Regions from separate parts of the Homo sapiens genome. Here regions 2 and 3 are each linked to region 1. Evidence: fine-mapped expression QTL. A gene starts in region 1. Each other region holds a variant in brackets. All regions are shown on one strand. Distances are between the middles of the regions. Region 1 holds the start of ITIH4 (inter-alpha-trypsin inhibitor heavy chain 4). Region 2 overlaps STAB1 (stabilin 1). Region 3 overlaps CACNA1D (calcium voltage-gated channel subunit alpha1 D).

Region 1 (2,758 bases):
ACCTTTGCCCCAGGCCTGCCGCCACCTCTAATGGAGACAGGACTGGTGGAGAAACCCTCCCCAGCCTCTGGAAGCCACTGGCTGCCCCAAGGCCCCCGATAGGTTCCCAAGGCAGCTGGCCCCCTCAGGGCTGGTGTCACGGAGCCGCCGTCCTTCCCTGATCCAGGACTTGGCATCTGGCCACACTTTTATGACTCATCTTTACCCATCTGTGGCCACAGACTCAGGAGCTGGCTTCCCCAGAGCCACCAGGGAACACGAGCCCCAGCGGTGCCCAGAGCGCATAATATGTACTCACTCGATCCCACTTTACAAGGAGCAGAGCGCTTCAACTTTAGCAAGGCCGGGACCCACCCCAGGCCTTTGGGCAGCGCTCCCCTGGGTCTGGGCTGTGGCAGCATCACACTGCTCATGACAACAGCATTCTGCCCTCTCTCAACCAGCGATTCCTGGGCTCCCTCTGCTCCACCAAATGACTCCCCAGTCACCCCTCAGGAGCTGCTGGCACTGTCAGGTCTGTCTTCTGTTCCATGCTCTTCTGTCAATAAACTCCCCGCATGGAGACCTCTGTGCCACAGGATGTGGCAGGTTTATGACTCAGTTGTATTGCCATTCTTGTTTTGGGGGCCTTGCTGGGGTTGAACCTAAAGCCCTGGCTAGATTAATGGCACCCAAACAGCAACCTGGGACCCCAGGAGAGAGAAGGAGGCGCCCCGTGCCCAGCACCTCTCACTTCAGAAATACGGCGTATCTATCCTGACTCTAGATCTGCCCCACACAGACACCTCCCAGAGTCACTCCATGCCTTTGGGCCCTCCCATCAGCCAGACACACTTACCTGGTGGCCAAGCCCCCTTCTTCCGGGAAGCCGCTAGGGTAGCCCTGTAGCCCTAGTCTTCCCCACCATCCCCCGCTGTTTCTCCCCGGGCTGGACTTAGGGAGAGCAGACTGACATCTTCACTGTCAATTCCCTCCCAGCCCTGTGGAGCTTGGTGGAATGCCTGGTGTGAAGGGTCCTGGTGAAGGTTTCGCACTTTTCAGAAGGGGCATGTACCCCCACTCCAAACTGAGCCTACCTTTCTTTGGTATACATTCCTGCCCCCAGCCAAGGTCCATGGGACGTTCGTCATTTGCTTATCTGAGGTCACTGTGGTTTTTGGCTTGTAGATCCCAATTTCCCAGAACCTGCCCCCATGTGGGTGGGGCAGCAAACAAGTTACTAATCCATTCCCCACTTGCTGTCGAGTTCAGAAGCCTCCTGGCAGACACTGGAGCCACGATGAAGCCCCCAAGGCCTGTCCGTACCTGCAGCAAAGTTCTCGTCCTGCTTTCACTGCTGGCCATCCACCAGACTACTACTGCCGAAAAGGTAGCCAGTGTCCATGGGTGTGGCGTGAGCTGGGGGATGAGAGAACGCCTGGGAAGTGGGGAAGAGCCTCCGCATGTGCCAGCGTGTCAGCACAAGTGCGTGTGCATCCCTGTGTGTGCAAAAAAATGGTGCAGACCTCCCGCCAGGCACTACCCCAAGGGCCTTACTGGTATTCTCCCACCTAATAGAGGGGATGATCCAATCATTTCCATTTTCCAAATGAGGAAATACAGTTTTACAAGCCTGGCTCTACCGCCTTTTAGTAAGTGACCTCAGGAGAATGATTTATGCTGACTATGTCTCAATTTCCTCATCTGTAAAACAGGGTAATACTAGAACCTATTCAGAGGGTGGCGGTTGTGAAAACCAAACCCATTGTATCTATAAAGTGCTTAGGACAGTGCTTGTTGTGAAAACCAAACCCATTGTATCTATGAAGTGCTTAGGACAGTGCTTGTCGCAGAGCAAATACCCAAGCACATAAACAAGCCACTTGGCACCTCTGTGCCAAACTGCATTCAGGCAGCCGCATGCAGCCGAGCAGAGTTGGTGCAGTGCGCATGAGCATGTCACACACAAGCAGGTAAGAGGTGCCCGTGTGCCCCTCCTCGGGGGACACAGACCTCAAGGCAAATGGCACCTGCTAGGGGAGTGCCCTGCGGAAGTGGGGATGAGTTGGGGAGGGTCCACTGCGGAGCAGAGAGGAAGATTCCCAACTCTCAGAGACCAGACTCTAGTCTACCTCCGAATTCTCCCAGCTCTGAGGGCTTCCTTCTAGGAGACTGGTGGGAGCTTCCCTGTTGCCACAGAGGCCAAAGTCTCCAGAAATCAAAGGACCTGGTCACTGCCCTTTTTCTGGGCAAAGCTAAGCCAGCATGCAAAGCTCCCTGACCCCACCAGGTCTCTCACCCCTGCCCAAAGGCTGAGTGTGATGCCCCTCCCAGACACTGGCCCTGGCTTCACCAGCTCCACCCCCTGCATGCTTGTTCTTCTCCAAGGGGTGCTCTGGGCCCCTATAGATCAAGAAGGACGTGGCCCCTGCCCTGTGGTGCTGTAGGGTGGGGAATGAAGCACACTGCTATCTCTTACCTGAGACAAATGTTCACATATGAGATGCCTCACTGGGTTCAGCCTGAGGCCTGGTCAGTGGCTCAGTCAGATTGGGAGCCAGGGTTTGGTCTAGAGCCAGAGTCAGGGCCAACTCTTGAAGAGCGTCACCCCGAGCTGAGGTGGCATTGAAACCCTGCAACCCCCTTCTTCTTTGCTGGTCCAGAATGGCATCGACATCTACAGCCTCACCGTGGACTCCAGGGTCTCATCCCGATTTGCCCACACGGTCGTCACCAGCCGAGTGGTCAATAGGGCCAATACTGTGCAGGAGGCCACCTT
Region 2 (2,758 bases), 330 kb after region 1:
AAGTGGGGAAACTGAGGCTACCAGAAGGCCTGTGACTTGCCCAGGGTCCCATAGCCAGTGTTTGGGTGCACTGTGGGGACAGTTCCGGCCTGGGACCCTGGCTCACCTGGCCCGGCTTCTGGTACACACACAAAGTAGAGTTGCTGGGGCAGCCACCAAGGTTGTCAGTGCATGGGTCCTTGGGCAGACACACCATCCCATCGCCATGGTAGTTCTCAGGGCAGTGACACTGAGCCTGCCCCTTGGGGCTCACCGAGCACTGGGCCAGCAGTGAGCAGGGTGATGGCCAGCAGGGGTTGGGGGCTGCCAGGGCAGAGAGAGAGCCCAAGTGAGCCAAGCACCCAGGAGCCCTGTCTCCGCCACAGCTTTCACCAGGAAGGCCGGGGCCAGCAGGTTGACCTAGGCCTTGAGGATAGGCTCCCCTTAGGAATGGCTCTCCCTCCTTGTGAATTACATTGCACTTGCTGGGTTAAAGGATGCTCTCCCAGCCCCCGCCCGCCCTGAGCTGAAGTCCCTGGCCTCTGAGTCCAGGCTCACCTCGGCATTCACTGCCCTGCTGTGTGTAGCCGGGCAGGCACCTGCAGCTGGGAGCCTCTGCGGAGCACTGGGTGTTCTGGGGACAGCGCAGCTCCTGGCAGACGGGCAGCTCTGCGCAGAGTGGAGAGAGCACTGATGAGCCCAAGCCCAGGCTGGGGAGGAACACAGGGGCAAAGGGGCCTTGCCTGTTCTGTGTGACTTGGAGCAGGGCCCTGACCTTGCTGGGCCTCTGGACAGTGGAGGTCTCAGATGACACCCCTTCCCCAACTAGGCTCCAGGCGGAGGTCCTGCTGAGGCTCAGGCCCCATCCTCACCCAGTCGGCCTCTTTTGCTCTGGCCACAGGGACCTGCTGCCCTAGGCTATCCCAGTGGCGCTGCTCACCTTGATCACAGTGGGGGCCAGTGTATCCAGCAAAGCACAGGCAGCTTCCATCCCCACGTGGCCCATGGTTGCACACTCCGTGCACACAGCTGCACACTGGGAGGGACACACAGAGACAGATGGGGCCCCAGCCTCTCCCAGGCACACACTGGGACATCGGGTCCCTGCTCTCTGTATTTTTAGAACTCAGCTCGGGCAGGTACAACCTTAAGAGTACAGAGCTGTGATGCGGGACCACAGGGGTGGTGGGAGACCACAGAAGGCACTGGCCCGGCCTGGGGCTCACAGAGGGCTTCCTGGAGAAGGCCTCTCAGGGGAGTAGCATGTGCAAAGGGCTGGAGGTGTGATAAAACAAAGCACATGTTCCTGAAAGGGATGTGCAAATCTGAGGGGCTGGGACAGAGGCTGAAGGGACAGGTGGGAGCTGGTTGTAGG[T/G]ACTGCATCTGCGTGGGCCCCCAGGTGGACGCTGGCCGTGCCCTCTTGCCTTTTAAGCACTCACCCGATTGGCAGTCAGGCCCGAACCGGTTGGGGTCTTGGCACTCCTGGCAGGCTGAGCCGCGGAAGTTTTCCTGGTGGTGGATGCACCAAGTCAGCGTGGCCCCTCTGAGCCTCCACCCCACCTTGCCCAGCCCTTACCTGGCACACACAGGTCCCATTCCTGTCCATGCCATCCAAGCAGGTCCCGTGGCCATTGCATGGGGTCTCAGCGCCCCCAGGGCATTCTGTGGACCCCCACAGTACTCAGCTCTGTGCCCAGAACCCTCCGCTTACCCTGACCCCAGCAGCTCTGGCCAACCCCAGACTCGGCCCCTCCCCCAAGGAAGCAAGAGCAAGGGGGCCGAGCCTTGGAGGCGCTCGGTGAGTATTAATTAAACAAACAAGTTGAAGGGGAATGCAGGTGGCTCCTGCAGAGGGCTTGCCCAGAGCTGGGGCTGGGTGGGAGGCGCAAGGCGGGGTCCCCCTTTCTCCCATACCATGGCACCGGGAACCCCAGTAGCCAGGGCAGCAGGCCTTCTGCACCACTTGCTTCCGGCACTTCCGTCTGCAGCCGCTCATGGACACCATAGAGCCCCCCAGCTGTACTTCGTAGCTGGGGGCAGAGGGTGGGCAGGGTGATGGAAAAGGCTCCCTTGCACAGCCCCCACCCAGCCTCCCCACATTGGCTTCCGGGGCTCCCACCCACCTCCCTGCTCTGCCTGGCCCAGAGCTGAGCACAGGGCCTAGCACATAGCAGGTGCCCCATAAACCCCTCCTGCCCCTCGCCTTTACCCCTTCCTCCCCGCCTATCTCCACCACCCAGGTGGGGCCACAGGGGCATGGATAAGTGAGTGCTTCTCCTCATTTTGTGGGCCTGTCAGGCTCCCCGAGTCCCTGCCACCCCACAGGATGCTCCTGGACACAGGCAAGGACAGGGGTGGCCCGCACCGGCAGTCCTGGGTTATCTGATCCGGGAGCTCCCGCAGCCAGCCTGAGGGACACGTCTGCTTCTTGATGGCCGCGCACGAGGTGCAGGGTACATGAGTGACAAACGTGGTTTTCACATCACAGCCTTTGAACAGCACCTGGGGCCACAGGCAGGGTGTGGTCAGGGGCCTGGACCCCACGCCCAGTCCTGACCCTGTCCTCAGTGCTGCAAGGGCTCACACCCCTCCAGCTGCCACTTCCCATCTGCTCAGGGGTCAGAGTAAGCAGAGGGTTCTGGGCACAGAGCTGAGTTCTTTGGGGGTCCACAGAATGCCCTGGGGGCGCTCAGTGGGAATGCAGTGCAGATGGGGAAGGCCCTGTGAAACCTGTCTGTTACAAGTTGTTAATGTCACATCGAGTCCTTATGTGCCCGGC
Region 3 (2,758 bases), 970 kb before region 1:
ATATCTCATATCTGTGTCTACCTCTATCAGCAAAATACTATTTTAATTTGAAAAGTGGTCATTAGCACTTAAACCAACACAATTAAAGCCATATAAAGTCATTCCATTAACATCACAGCAGAAATATGGTTTTGAAGAAACACAGAGTTGCTATAAAATATAAACATTATTGACTTATTTTAAGATGTCCAATCTTATAAAATATTAAACAGAATCAAGCCTAGTTTCTGGTTGATTTTAAAATGCTAGATGTTATCATAAATAATTTTTAGAAAAGAAATGTTGGCGCTTTGCCTGTAGACTGCTGCTTAAAATTTTAGACACCATTTAGTTGGAATTTCATAGATATTCTATTGAATGATTAAGTTACCAAAAAAAACTAAAATGTCTCAAAACACTTCTGAATAGCATAATATGATGACATTTTGACATCAAATATGAACACCCATTTACCTTTCTTTCTCCTGCCCACTTTTAGGGTTAAGTTTCTCCTGCCTAGATGCATTTGCAATGCTTTTGCTGCCTGTGTCCCTAAGCTAGCTCCATCAGACACACCAGCCATCTGCCAGCCCTCACAGCGCCACAGCAAGCATGCACAAGTGCCCAGAGCCCCGCCCTGGACCTACGCTGTAGCAGTGGAGATAAGAGATGCATGTCTCTAGTCGGGACTGGGCCAGGCCATTCATCTTCAGGATACAAGCGCCAGGCTTTGAGACTCCAGCCAAAGAACCCTGCCTGGCAGAGCCTGTTCCCCATCACAGGCAGGCTGCACTCAGCCTAGGCTGGCCCTGCACACAGTCGTCTCGCTGGTGACAAGTTCTGGTTAACCCTTTAGCAGGATTCAGTCTATACCCAATGAGAGGGGACCTTTTTAGACTAGTTCCATTAGAAAACAGAATGAGATTAAGTTCTTATGGAATAAACCTGCTCATCTGCAAGCTGCCGTCCGCCTCCTCAGCACATCACACGTGGGCACACCCCTTATTTTGTCACCACTCTCCTCCAGGGATAATGTGATGGCAGCCTTTGTGTCCATTGTGAATGGTCCTTGTGTCAGATATAAAGGGTTGGGATCCTGGCGCTCTGTTAGTCATCCACAGTGATTCCAACCCTCACTGAAAAGTCAGGGGTAACATGACCCCCAC[A/G]AGCTCCCCTAGGGGTTGCGCTATTCCCATCACTTGGAAAGATAAAGGAAACTTTAAAGAAATTATCTAAAATATGACCTTTGCCTGCACACAATCTGAGAGCTCTCCGTTTCAGTTCCACCTTGATTCTTGGTGCAATCAGGAATCTGATTCGTTGTAATTTTAACAACCGAATCAAAAAAAGTCTTGCCAGTTTCCTGATAATAGAGCATTCTGTAAAGTTTAGGCTTAGCAGAAGCTGTAAAACACAACTTCTGTTCTGATAGCATCTTTATACCAGTCATTGTGAGCTTACATACAAATATTCCACTAGATTCTGGGAGGAAGGGAGAGCCAAAGTTATTCCCATGTGGTTAAATTATGTGCCCAAATGAGTCAAAGGCTCAGTGAGGACTCTTGGCCCCTAAGCCTGTTCTTCCTGTGACACTGGGCTGCCTTACCTCTCCCAAACTCCCCACCTCAACCACCACCCAGGCAAAGTCACTGCACCTACTGGGAAAGAACGCTGGATTGGAGTCTGAATCACACACTTACTCACCTATAGTCACGACTGTGGGGTGCCACCTGATCAAGGCTAACCCTCTTTTGACTACCCTAGCAGAGCTCTTATATTCCTAAGTCAGCATGGAGATGACAAATGATCAAAAGTTATCCCTGAAACGGATCCTGTTTGGCACACATCCTTGGTCCCAGTTGTGCACTTAGGGGAGCTGATTTTTAAAAACACTTTCTATCCTGCCCTGATTCAGACCATCACACCTGCAGATCAGCACAGGCCGCAAGACTCGGCCATGCTAGACGAATGGGGACACAGGCAGCTCCATGCCTCCGGGGAGTGGGCTGAGACTGGGAAGGGGCTGGAGGGGGAGAAGGGCTCCAGTTAGGGCAGTGCCACTGCACAGGAGCCTCTTTAACAAGGGAGATGATTAAAAGGCTCCAGCACCCTCTGCCTTTAGGGGGACCTAGTAGCATTCCCCCAAAGCAGTTCTCAGGTGTGTTCTGGGGACCTTGGGGCATCCCAAGACACTGTCAGGGGTCCATGAGGTCACTGTGATTTGCATAACATAAGGATGTTCTTTGCCTTCAACACTCTCATCCTCTCATGAGAGCACAGTGAGGTTTTCAAAGGCTGCCTGATGCATGATGTCATCACCCTGGCGTCTTTGTGCTTGCATGTTCTTGTTTTAAAAACTGCTCCGTTTTAATTTCTAAGACAGTAAATATTGACACACAAGGGTCTTCAATAATGTAGAGTATAAAAGGGTCCGAAGACCAAAAAGTTTGATAACTGCTGATCAATCTATCCTCCAACAGGCACTACTACTTTTTCCTCAGGTGTAGACTTTTTTACCCCATCTAGGATTCCCACTCTTCTGTGGACCTTTCTCCACTCTTGGAAGAAATGGCCTTCCTATGGCTTCCCTGAGCCAGCCTTTGGGACGTCTGAATGGGTTGCCTTCACCATGCCTTAGAATTATGTGCCCTTCCAAGATCTCAAACAGCTGTGTCCCTTAGGTCTAAGAGGTGCCAAGGAGAATGAACTCACCTGGGTTTCTACCCACCCTAGAACTGTTAGTAAGTCTTAGCCAGCTCCTTCGCACAGATCATCTAAT

Evidence for each region.
Region 2: its variant is fine-mapped to the expression of ITIH4 in prostate (GTEx, PIP above 0.99).
Region 3: its variant is fine-mapped to the expression of ITIH4 in amygdala (GTEx, PIP 0.96).

What each region holds. Positions count from the first base shown.
Region 1 is chr3:52,829,164-52,831,921 of GRCh38, reverse strand. ITIH4 (inter-alpha-trypsin inhibitor heavy chain 4) reads left to right here and starts at 1,250. Exons shown (of 24, transcript NM_002218.5): 1 at 1,250-1,369; 2 at 2,643-2,758. The coding sequence starts at 1,280.
Region 2 is chr3:52,500,889-52,503,646 of GRCh38, reverse strand. STAB1 (stabilin 1) reads right to left here. Exons shown (of 69, transcript NM_015136.3): 2 at 2,345-2,481; 3 at 1,894-2,009; 4 at 1,556-1,641; 5 at 1,419-1,488; 6 at 920-1,015; 7 at 538-648; 8 at 107-303. Among named protein-coding and RNA genes, the nearest start is that of STAB1, 6.9 kb to the right of the region's middle. The variant T/G (reference allele first, on the strand shown) is at 1,355.
Region 3 is chr3:53,794,269-53,797,026 of GRCh38, reverse strand. The region is part of intron 40 of CACNA1D (calcium voltage-gated channel subunit alpha1 D); the gene reads right to left. Among named protein-coding and RNA genes, the nearest start is that of CHDH, 51 kb to the left of the region's middle. The variant A/G (reference allele first, on the strand shown) is at 1,146.